Linked DNA regions of Homo sapiens. The protein of the gene in region 1 purifies or fractionates together with the protein of each later gene. This does not show direct contact. Each region holds a gene or a part of one and is shown in the gene's direction. Other genes may lie near its edges.

Region 1 (4,811 bases):
CAGATGGTCGCTCAGCCTGGCTTCCAAAACAATAATGAAAGCAGTTAAGCAACCAGCATGAACAAAGTCAGAGTTTAAATATGGCTATAACATTCATAATTTATTGTCTGTATTTTCTGATGCTTTGACATCTTGGGGCCGTGCTAATCCTGAAAAGACTACCTCTCCCAGGGTAGGCAAATTCCTAGAGATAGTAAACAACTTGCCTGTGAATATGCCTTGTAGCTGGTCCTAGTGGCTCATGCCTGTAATCCCAGCAGTTTGGGAGGCTGAGGCAGGTGGATCACCTGAAGTCAAGAGTTCAAGACCAGCATGGCCAACATGGTGAAACCCTGTCTCTACTAAAAATACAAAAGTTAGCCAGGCATGGTGGCGCATGCCTGTAGTCCCAGCTCTTCTGGAGGCTGAGGCAGGAGAAACGTTTGAACCTGAGAGGAGGAGGTTGCAGTGAGTGGAGATCACGCAGCTGCGCACCAGTCTGGGCAAAAGAGCAAGACTCTGTCTCAACAAACAGGGCCGAGCACAGTGGCTGACACCTGTAATCCCAGCACTTTGGGAGGCTGAGGCAGGTGAATCACCTGAGGTCAGGAGTTCGAGACCAGCCTGGCCAACATGGCAAAACCCCATCTCTACTAAAAATACAAAAATTAGTCGGGCATGATGGCGGGTGCCTTTAATTCCAGCTACTCAGGGGGCTGAGGCAGGAGAATCGCTTGAACCCAGGAGGCGGAGGTTGCAGTGAACTGAGGATCATGCCACTGCACTCCAGCCAAGATGACAGAGCGAGACTCCGTCTTAAAAAAAAAAAAAAAAAAAAGGCCTTTTATATGCAAACCAGCCAATTCCGAGCCCATATCCTCAGCCACCTCCTTTGTCTAATCCTTACACAATAAGCCGATAGTTCCTCTGCCCTAAATCAGCTCAGAGCCAGGCATCAGTCAACCAGAGGCCACCGCTATAGCCCAGAGCCAGCCAAAATTATTCAAACTGTGCAATCCTAAACTTGCTTGAACTTGCCAACCTAGCTCGCCACCCTTCCTTGTGGAAACCACAAGAAGAGCTCTGGGCCATGCTCTTCCCTGGCTCCTCCTGCCTCTTCACTAATGTAGTGTTTCCCTCTCTGGCCCTGCATGGCATCCAGTGCCTACTCCCTCTTGGAACTGTGGCTAGTAAACTTCTTTCAATGACAGTGACTCTCTGTATCATCAGTCACACCTATATATTAAATCCCAGGCACATTTTAAAACAACCTGCCTTATTAGTAAGAGGACTGGCCACTCCTTTTTAAGGCTTCCTCCTCTTGAATTGTCCAAGAGCACCTGAGGTCAAGAGTTCAAGACCAGCCTGGCCAACATGGTGAAACCCCGTCTCTACTAAAAACACAAAAAAATTAGCTGGACGTGGTGACACGCACCTGTAGTCCCAGCTACTTGGGAGGCTGAGGCAGGAGAATCACTTGAACCTGGGAGGCGGAAGTTACAGTGAGCCGAGATTGCACTACTGCACTCCAGCCTGGGTGACAGAGAGAGACTTTGTCTCAAAAAAAAAAAAAAAATTAGTTGGGCATGGTTGTGCATGCCTGTGGTCCCAGCTACTTGGGAGGCTGAGATGGGAGGATCACTTGAGCCTGGGAGGTTAAGGTTGCAGTGAAAAAAAAAAAAGAAGAAATGACTCTAAAATTTAATCTCTAGCTGGGTGTGGTGGCTCACACTGTAATCCCAGCACTTTGGGAAGCTGAGGCTGGCAGATCATTTGAGGTCAGGAGTTCGAGACCAGCTTGGCCAACATGGTGAAAGTCCGTCTCTATAAAAATGCAAAAAATTAGCCAGGCATGGTGGCATGCACCTGTAATCCCAGCTACTCGGGAGGCTGAGGTAGGAGAATCTCTTGAACTCTGGAGGTACAGGTTGCAGTGAGCCGAGATCGTACCACTGCAGTCCAGCCTGGGTGACAGAGCAAAACTCTGTCTCAAAAAAAAAGAAAAAAGAAAAAAAGTTTAATCTCTAGTTAGACACCCACCCCACTATACACACACATAAATATATACATATATGTGGATAGATAAATAAACAGAATCCTGAGTGTCTACTATGCTACTTATCCTTCAGATCTCAGTTTAGCTATCACTAGTGTAGCACTAAGCATTTTATATACATGTCTTATTTAACTCTCAAAACACACCCCATGAGATTGGTACTGTTCCTTTTTTTTTTCTTTAGACATAGGGTCTCACTTTGTCACCTAGGCTGGAGTGCAGTGGCACCATCTTGGCTCACTGCTGCCTTGACCTCCTGGCTTTGAGCAATCCCCCTTCCTCAGCCTCCCAAAGTGCTGAGGTTATAGCCGTGAGCCACAATGTCCAGCCTCTTCCCTTTTTGTAGATGAGAAAACTGAGGCACAGAGGCATGAAGCAATTTACTTAACTACTACACAGCTAGGAAGCAGTAGCACTAGGATTTAAACCTTGTCTCATGGAGTTCAAGAATTTGGAGTTCTTAACCCTTGTGCTTCCAGACTCCATACGACAATAGGGAAGCGGTTCCGTCTCTTCACTCTTCCTTCCATGTGCTGTAGGGCCTTGGACAGCTCTGTTTTCTTCACTCACTTTCAACTGCTCTGCACAGAGACCATCAGATGGGGTCAGTGACTCATCTCAGAGGATTCTTGCTGGTGGCTCTTGGCTCTAGCCCAATCTTGGGTCCAATTTCCTGCAGTGTTTCCTCGAACATTCAATAGAGGTTGTCCTGGTATCTTAGAGGAAAGAACCTCATTACAGGAAGTTGAAGATGAAGACAGCCTGACACTGACATGATATCTTTTTTTTCTTTTTTTTTTTTTTTGAGACTGAGTCTCTCTGTCGCCCAGGCTGGAGTGAAGTGGCGCGATCTTAGCTCACTGCAACCTCCACCTCCCAGGTTCAACTGATTCTCTTGCCTCAGCCTCCTGAGTAGCCGGGACTACAGGTGCCCGCCACCACGCCCAGCTAATTTTTTGTATTTTTAGTAGTGATGGGGTTTCACCATGTTGACCAGGCTGGTCTCAAACTCCTGACCTCAGGTGATCCACCCGCCTTGGGCTCCCAGAGTGCTGGGATTACAGGCGTGTGCCACCGCTCCCGGCCAACATGGTATCTTTTTTTTTTTTGAGACGGAGTCTTGCTCTGTCACCCAGGCTGGAGTGCAGAGGCGCTATCTCAGCTCACTGCAAGCTCCGCCTCCTGGGTTCACGCCATTCTCCTGCCTCAGCCTCTCGAGTAGCTGGGACTACAGGTGCCCGCCACCATGCCCAGCTAATTTTTTGTATTTTTAGTAGAGACGGGGTTTCACCGTGGTCTCGATCTCCTGACCTCGTGATCCGCCTGCCTCGGTCTCCCAAACTGCTGGGATTACAGGCGTGAGCCACCGCGCCCGGCAACATGATATCTTTAAGCATGAAAATTTTTCAAGTTTCCTGCTTTATTTTATTTTGTTAGAGACAGGGTCTCACTCTGTCACCCAGGCTAGAGTGTAATGGCACCATCGTAGTTCAAGGCAGCCTTGAACTCCTGGGTTCAAGCAATCCTTTTGCCTCTCAGCCTCTCTAGTACCTGGGATCACAGGTGTGCATCACCACACCTGGCTAGTTTTTGTAATTTTTTGTAGAGACGGGGTCTCACTATGTTTCCCAGGCTGGTCTCAAACTTCTGGCCTAAGTGATCCTCCTACCTCGGCTTCCCAAAATGTTAGGATTACAGGTGTGAGCCACTGCACTTGGCCCAGACATGCTTTATTTTTAATATCCATGCCAACTTTGCATTCTTCTGACTAATATATACCATTTTATTTTATTTTATTTTATTTTATTTTATTTTATTTATTTATTTATTTTGAGACGGAGTCTCGCTCTGTCGCCCGGGCTGGAGTGTAGTAGCGAAATCTCAGCTCGCTTCAAGCTCCCCCTCCCAGGTTCACATTCTCCTGTCTCAGCCTCCCAAGTAGCTGGGACTACAGGCGCCTACCACCACGTCCAGCTAATTTTTTGTATTTTTAGTAGAGACGGCGTTTCACCGTGTTAGCCACGATGGTCTCGATCTCCTGACCTTGTGATCCACCTGCCTCGGCCTCCCAAAGCGCTGGGATTACAGGCGTGAGCCACCGCACCTGGACTCCCATTTTAATTTATTATTTAAGAAAAAAGAGGCCGGGCACAGTGGCTTATGCCTGTAACCCCAGCACTTTGGGAGGCTGAGGTGGGTGGATCACCTGAGGCCAGGAGTTTGAGACCATCCTGGCCAACATGGCAAAACCCTGTTTCTACTAAAAATACAAAAAATTATCTGGGTGTGGTGGCTGGGCGCCTGTAATCCCAGCTATTTGGGAGGTTGAGGCAGGAGAATTGCTTGAACCCGGGAGGCGGAGGTTGCAGTGAGCTGAGATCACGCCATTGCATTCCAGCCTGGGCAAGAGAGCGAGACTCTGTCTCTAAAAAAGAAGAAAGAATGGAGTCTTCCTTACTAATCCTCAGGTAAACTGAGGCTCAGAAGAGGCTCCACGCTCCACTTGTTGTGCATAGCTGCTTTTCCCTGGGTGTGCATGTCACCCACAGTTGAAGACATGCCATCCCCAAGATGGCAGGATTTGTTTGGCTGGGAGCACATGGATGCTTTTCTCAGGAGAAGGTCTTCAGCTGTTTCCATGCATCTCTGCTACTAACCCAATTCCCTGGGGCCCCTGCCCCTCTCCTGCTGGGTGTTCTTCCAGCATCCTGTGTTCCTAACTCCACACCCCACACACTTTCCTCAGGTTACACCGTGACCTGGCTGCCCTCCCGGC
Region 2 (5,604 bases), on another chromosome or scaffold:
GGTGTTCAGTAACAAGGGACATTTTCTAGGGTCAGCCTAAATTGCGACCTAGGCCATTGGAACTATTGGCCATGAAAGCACAATTATGTATTGTAATAGGCAATAGAATATGTGGCTCTGACATTAGACTAACATCCATCCCTTCAATATAGGGACCTTAGGCAAATTAACCTCTTTCTTACTCAGTTTCTTCTTTTAAAAAATAAGCATGATAATAGCAGCCACTTCATAATATTGTGATGAGGTGCAAATGAGTTAATGCATGTAAAGTGTTTAAGCTATTAACTCAACAAATATTACCCATTACTGAAAACATCAGAGTGTGCCACCTGCTAAGTAAGTGCTTCTGGGGAGATAGAGTATTTCAAATTGGATTGTCATGAAAAATTTGGAAAATTTGAAAGCTAAAACTCTTGCTTTCATTTCCTACTGCCTCAATTCTCTGTATTCTGAATTTACTCCCTGTGTCCCCCTAAAATTGCATTTGCAAAAGCCGATCTTCAAGTTACATCCAATGCCCGCTCTGCCTCATCTTCTATGGGAAACAAGAATTTTAGAGGTCAGGTAGCCTAACACCATCAATTCTCAAAAGAGGAAGCTGAGGCCAAGAGAAGTCCTGTGAATTTCTTACAGCTCATTTGTGACAGACCAAGAATTACCCACTTTACTGGGTTGTTATTTACTAAGTGACAGTGAGTCTATATCTCTTTTGACAAGTGAGGTGGGGGCATGGAATTCGGCATGTGGTTGGTGTAAGAACTCCCCTCTCTCCTCTTTAACCTTACTTAATAAGACCCTGGCACAGTTGATATTTTAAGAGGGCTACTCTGTTTTCCCAGAGGGACCTAGGCACGGTAACCCTCTTAGCATGCAGACCTTGTTTCCTGAGGGGTAATGTTTCCCTTCCCTGTGACTTGTTTCTTGGGGGCTGTGTTCTGATTTTCCTGCTGAGCCACTTGTTGCCTTGGGCTGGCTGCCGCGCTTGGCAGTTTTTAGTGAGGGCTCTGATAGATGCCAGGAGGTGAGGGGAAGGGCTCTGGGTGGACTCCGTCATTGGACAAGCAGACTTAGTGATGGATGAGCCTTCCCCTGAGGAAGTTTTGGATCAGAAGTCCAACTGATAAGTTTTTCCAGAATTGAGTAACCCAGAAGCAGTGCCGAAAGGATCTTACCTCTCTTGTGGCTTTTTGTATTGATTTTAAAAGAAATTCTCAGAGGCAGTTCCACATTGTACTGGAAGCACAGCTATATCCACAATAGGCTTAGATATATGTAACATGAATTGCTTTAGAAATAACATTTGAGGAGAGGGGTGAGAGGAAGGAAGAGAGGGTCTTAAAAAATAGCCCTATCAAAATATTTTCTTTCTTCTAAGTATTGAAAAGACACAATATAACCCTTTCTTCTTTCAAATGATCTCATAGCTATTTGTTGAGGGGAAATACCAAATGTTTATTATTTTTTTTGAAGAAGCTTCTTCGGTCCTGATGATTCATGTTGATATCATTTTCCTCCTGACTACAGAGGCTCTGAGACAAAGCTACACCTCAAGTGATATGCCAGGGTCAGAACAATTCCCGTCCTGAAGGAGGGTGTGCAACCTTCTTTATCCCTCCTTCACAGACGTCCTTGAGCCCTTGAGACGGATGTGAGTGAGTTTTTCAGTCCTCATGCAAAACAACCATCTAAACATAACAGATGACATCAGCTTGGGCTTTTCAATTCCTGGATGGCAGCAGCGTGTTAATCCAGCCTTCATCCTGGATTTCATAAACCAAAACAAGAGAGCCTGGCAGGAGGACAGCGCTGCTGCTGGGTTGAGGAAATTGATGACGGGAAAGCATGCGGGCAACCCAGTGTATAAAACTCATAAACGTGTAGGCAGAGGCTCAGCTACCAGTTTGGACGGCTGCTTCCCACCAGCAAAGACCACGACTGGAGAGCCGAGCCGGAGGCAGCTGGGAAACATGAAGAGCGTCTTGCTGCTGACCACGCTCCTCGTGCCTGCACACCTGGTGGCCGCCTGGAGCAATAATTATGCGGTGGACTGCCCTCAACACTGTGACAGCAGTGAGTGCAAAAGCAGCCCGCGCTGCAAGAGGACAGTGCTCGACGACTGTGGCTGCTGCCGAGTGTGCGCTGCAGGGCGGGGAGAAACTTGCTACCGCACAGTCTCAGGCATGGATGGCATGAAGTGTGGCCCGGGGCTGAGGTGTCAGCCTTCTAATGGGGAGGATCCTTTTGGTGAAGAGTTTGGTATCTGCAAAGGTAAAGAGTGACCCCTTACCTCTCCCCTCCCGGGGCATGCTGAGAGCTTTTAGCCAGCTTGGGAGGTGAGGTGGCTTTGCTCCTCAAGAGTAAGAGGGAAAAGGCAGGTGGATTCTTGACAAGGCACCACACAGGTATTGTCATGGGTAGAGACTGAAGGATAGCTCCAAGTAGCAACTGAAACCAGTGTGCAGGAAGGCACAGAAAGAAGTGTGGCATTTTACTCGTTGCCTTAGGAGATCGCAAAAAGAAAGCTGCAATGGAAGATTGTGTTGGCTCCTTTTCTGGAAAACTTTAGAAACTTGACAGGTAATCTGTTAAGGATGGCTTAGGTGCTCTCTCCTCTGCGAGGCAGCGATTACAAAGGTCTGCACTAGATAACCTCTTGGAATGGTTTCTAGCCCCCAGATTTAGTGATTCTTTGATCTTGAAAGGGTCCACAGGATGGAGGGCCACTCTCAAGATCAAATATTTCTGATAAACACAAATGCACTTTATGGAATAGAGTGAGCTTAAGTCATCTAACAAAATAACTCACTCTTCAAAGAGGGTCCCCTGAAGCATAAAACAAACCTCATCTGACTTTATAAAGGTTTTGGTCATCTGGAAAAATAGCAGATGGTGTTAAGACAAGGAAAAATAACAATAGAGAAAAATAAAAACTGGAAGTCTGTAAAGAATGAGGTTGACCACTTGTACACTTAAAGAAAAACTTCGTCGGTTGAAATTTTAGCTAAATAATGTAGTTAAGCATTTGTAGAATTTATTTTAAACATAGTAACTAGTTTAAAATATTTAACATTTTAAAAATGTTTAGAATAAAAAGAATGATGATTTAAAAATACTCTACGTATAGATATCTCATGATCTTATTATGAAGAGCTATTATTAAGAAGCAACACATGCTATAACCCCATCCATCAGTTGTGTAATACCAGGAAGCTTTCAAAATTATAAAAAGGACTGAGAAATTTCTAAATAATTATTATGTTTTATGTATTTAATACATTTTTTATGAATAATATTTATCCAGTATTGTGCTAATCTCATTAATTCTCCTACTTCTTAGACATATAATGTATAAATTAATCATCTTTTAATTTGCAAGACATACAAAATTAAAAAAACAAATTCTTAAAGTATTAGGAGAGTTTTATTTTTTGCTTAGTTTATTTTTGTTTATATACAATAAGAAATAGAATATTGAGAAAATATTTTGTTTGGTGAACACATATGCATGTTTCTTTCAACTGAATAGGATCTGTATATTTTGTAAATTATGGGGCTTATTGACCAAGAAAACAGTACTTCACATAAGGAAATTAGGGAGGAAGTGGTTAACACAATCATACTTATGATATAGCATGTATATGCAGTGGATTGCTTTTTCTCTTGGCATAATATGCCTTTGTACATGTGATTGTAAATGTACATTACATATGGGCAAAGAAACAAGCTGTGTGGCATCTGGAGTCTTTAGCACTGTAGTATTCTACTGAATGATCAAGATACTAAAAAGATCTTTAAGATTGCTTCTTTTGGCTTTCTTCAGGTTGCTGATGAATCTAGTTTTAAGCATTTTTCTCTCTGCTGGAAATAGGAGACTTTGTGAGCCTTAGCAACTCGAGATAGAGATAATACATTTGGCAATCATCTCCCTTCTTCAGCTTTTTAAAAGAACATCCACGTGAAAACTGTAAACTTCAGCTGCGTATCCAAATGTCTTCTAAATATTCAGATGTCTGTGAACATCTTGCCCAGATTAACAATCAGCAGCCAACACATATTTAATGAACACTTACTATCTGCCCAGCACTGTTCAGTACATCAGGGGATACACTAGAAGTATCTCTGGGAATTTGGCTAAAGTTTTAGTTTTCAATATCGCTGCAGGCACAGTCAAATCCTAATCCTGTGTGCTTTTCTGGAACAGGCCTTTGCAGGATCCCTTTTTAAGATCTCTTCTTCCCAGCAAAGAGAACAGTGTTCAAAACCAGGTTCCTCTGTGATCTGAACCATATTGAAAAGAGCACTCATAGATCTCTTTAAAAAAAGATAGCTCATTGATGATCTACTTGGTCAGTTAGTGGAGTATTAGACTGCTAGAGACTCAGATGGCTCACAATTTGTTCTTTACCCACCTGTGATTGTACATTTACAAGGTATTTTCACAACAAGAGAATATTCTATATCTATTCTGCTGGCTTTTAAAGGTTGGTTAGTCTACTGAGATGCTGTTTATCCTAAAAACAGCATTTTAAATAATTTTATGCATTTTAAATAAACGACTTTGTCCTCTTTATTTCAATGTAGGATGTTTTGGCATAAGTGTAAGCACTGGAGGTCTAAAAGCTTCTAGTTCTTGGTAGGTGTACAAACCCTCAGGGTGTATAAGCCCTGAGCTTTCTTGCTCATTTAGCATCTTGCATGTTAGCCTTGCAGAGGATTTTACTAGGGAGCCCTCTTAACTACTGAGGGAGTCAGGCAAGTTGTATGACATGCCGTTTCGACAAATAAGGAACTTGATAAGGGTTGGAGCAGATGGAAGATTGATTGCTTCATGGTGAGCTAGGATGATAGCTCTCTCCCTGGTTAGTTTGAAGCCCTTTCCTATACACTTAAAATAGTAAATTATCTGTGAATACAGTAGATTCAAAGATAGCATCACATTTTAAAAACTCTTTGAGGAGCTGATGCATATATGTCTGTTCAATTTCCCACCTTTGCTGAGCTGTTACAGAGGTCATCTGTGAGAATTTATTGGTATCTAAGCAGAACATCACCAGAATGAAGACTGGTCCAAGGAGACTGGCTGTGTGTAGCTGTCTTCAACTTAACTTTACATCACAACACTAAGCCCGAGGCATCCATTATCTGTTCTTAATGTGTGATTTCATATTTATGACTCAAAGTTTCAACTTTCAAATCCTGGGTTTGGAGAATTGGATTTTACTTTACAGTCAAGGTTCATGAGGTTGGTTCAAATCGCAAGGCTATGCACCCAGGGCTGTTAGGATGGAGACGTATTTACAACAAGCAGCGTCCTCTCCAACCTTTCCTTTGTCCCCAGACTGTCCCTACGGCACCTTCGGGATGGATTGCAGAGAGACCTGCAACTGCCAGTCAGGCATCTGTGACAGGGGGACGGGAAAATGCCTGAAATTCCCCTTCTTCCAATATTCAGTAACCAAGTCTTCCAACAGATTTGTTTCTCTCACGGGTAAGCACTGATTCTGGTATAAGCATTGGAAGAATAGTCTCATTTCAGTGTGAATAACTTAGAAAATATCTGTGAGTAGAATAAGATGTGGATTGGAATGATTTTATTTCCTTTGC

The links. The genes of interacting proteins can lie anywhere in the genome.
Region 2: the proteins of ITGAL (region 1) and ESM1 purify together in Homo sapiens (affinity purification with western blotting, with the first as the bait; one study listed by BioGRID). This does not show direct contact.

The regions. Positions count from the first base shown.
Region 1 is NC_000016.10:30,489,431-30,494,241, forward strand, and holds part of ITGAL (integrin alpha-L isoform a precursor), read left to right. Parts: intron 1-4,781; coding exon 4,782-4,811.
Region 2 is NC_000005.10:54,981,881-54,987,484, reverse strand, and holds the start of ESM1 (endothelial cell-specific molecule 1 isoform a precursor), read left to right. Parts: upstream 1-1,891; 5' UTR 1,892-1,967; coding exon 1,968-2,268; intron 2,269-5,338; coding exon 5,339-5,488; intron 5,489-5,604. UniProt on the Homo sapiens protein: Involved in angiogenesis; promotes angiogenic sprouting. May have potent implications in lung endothelial cell-leukocyte interactions.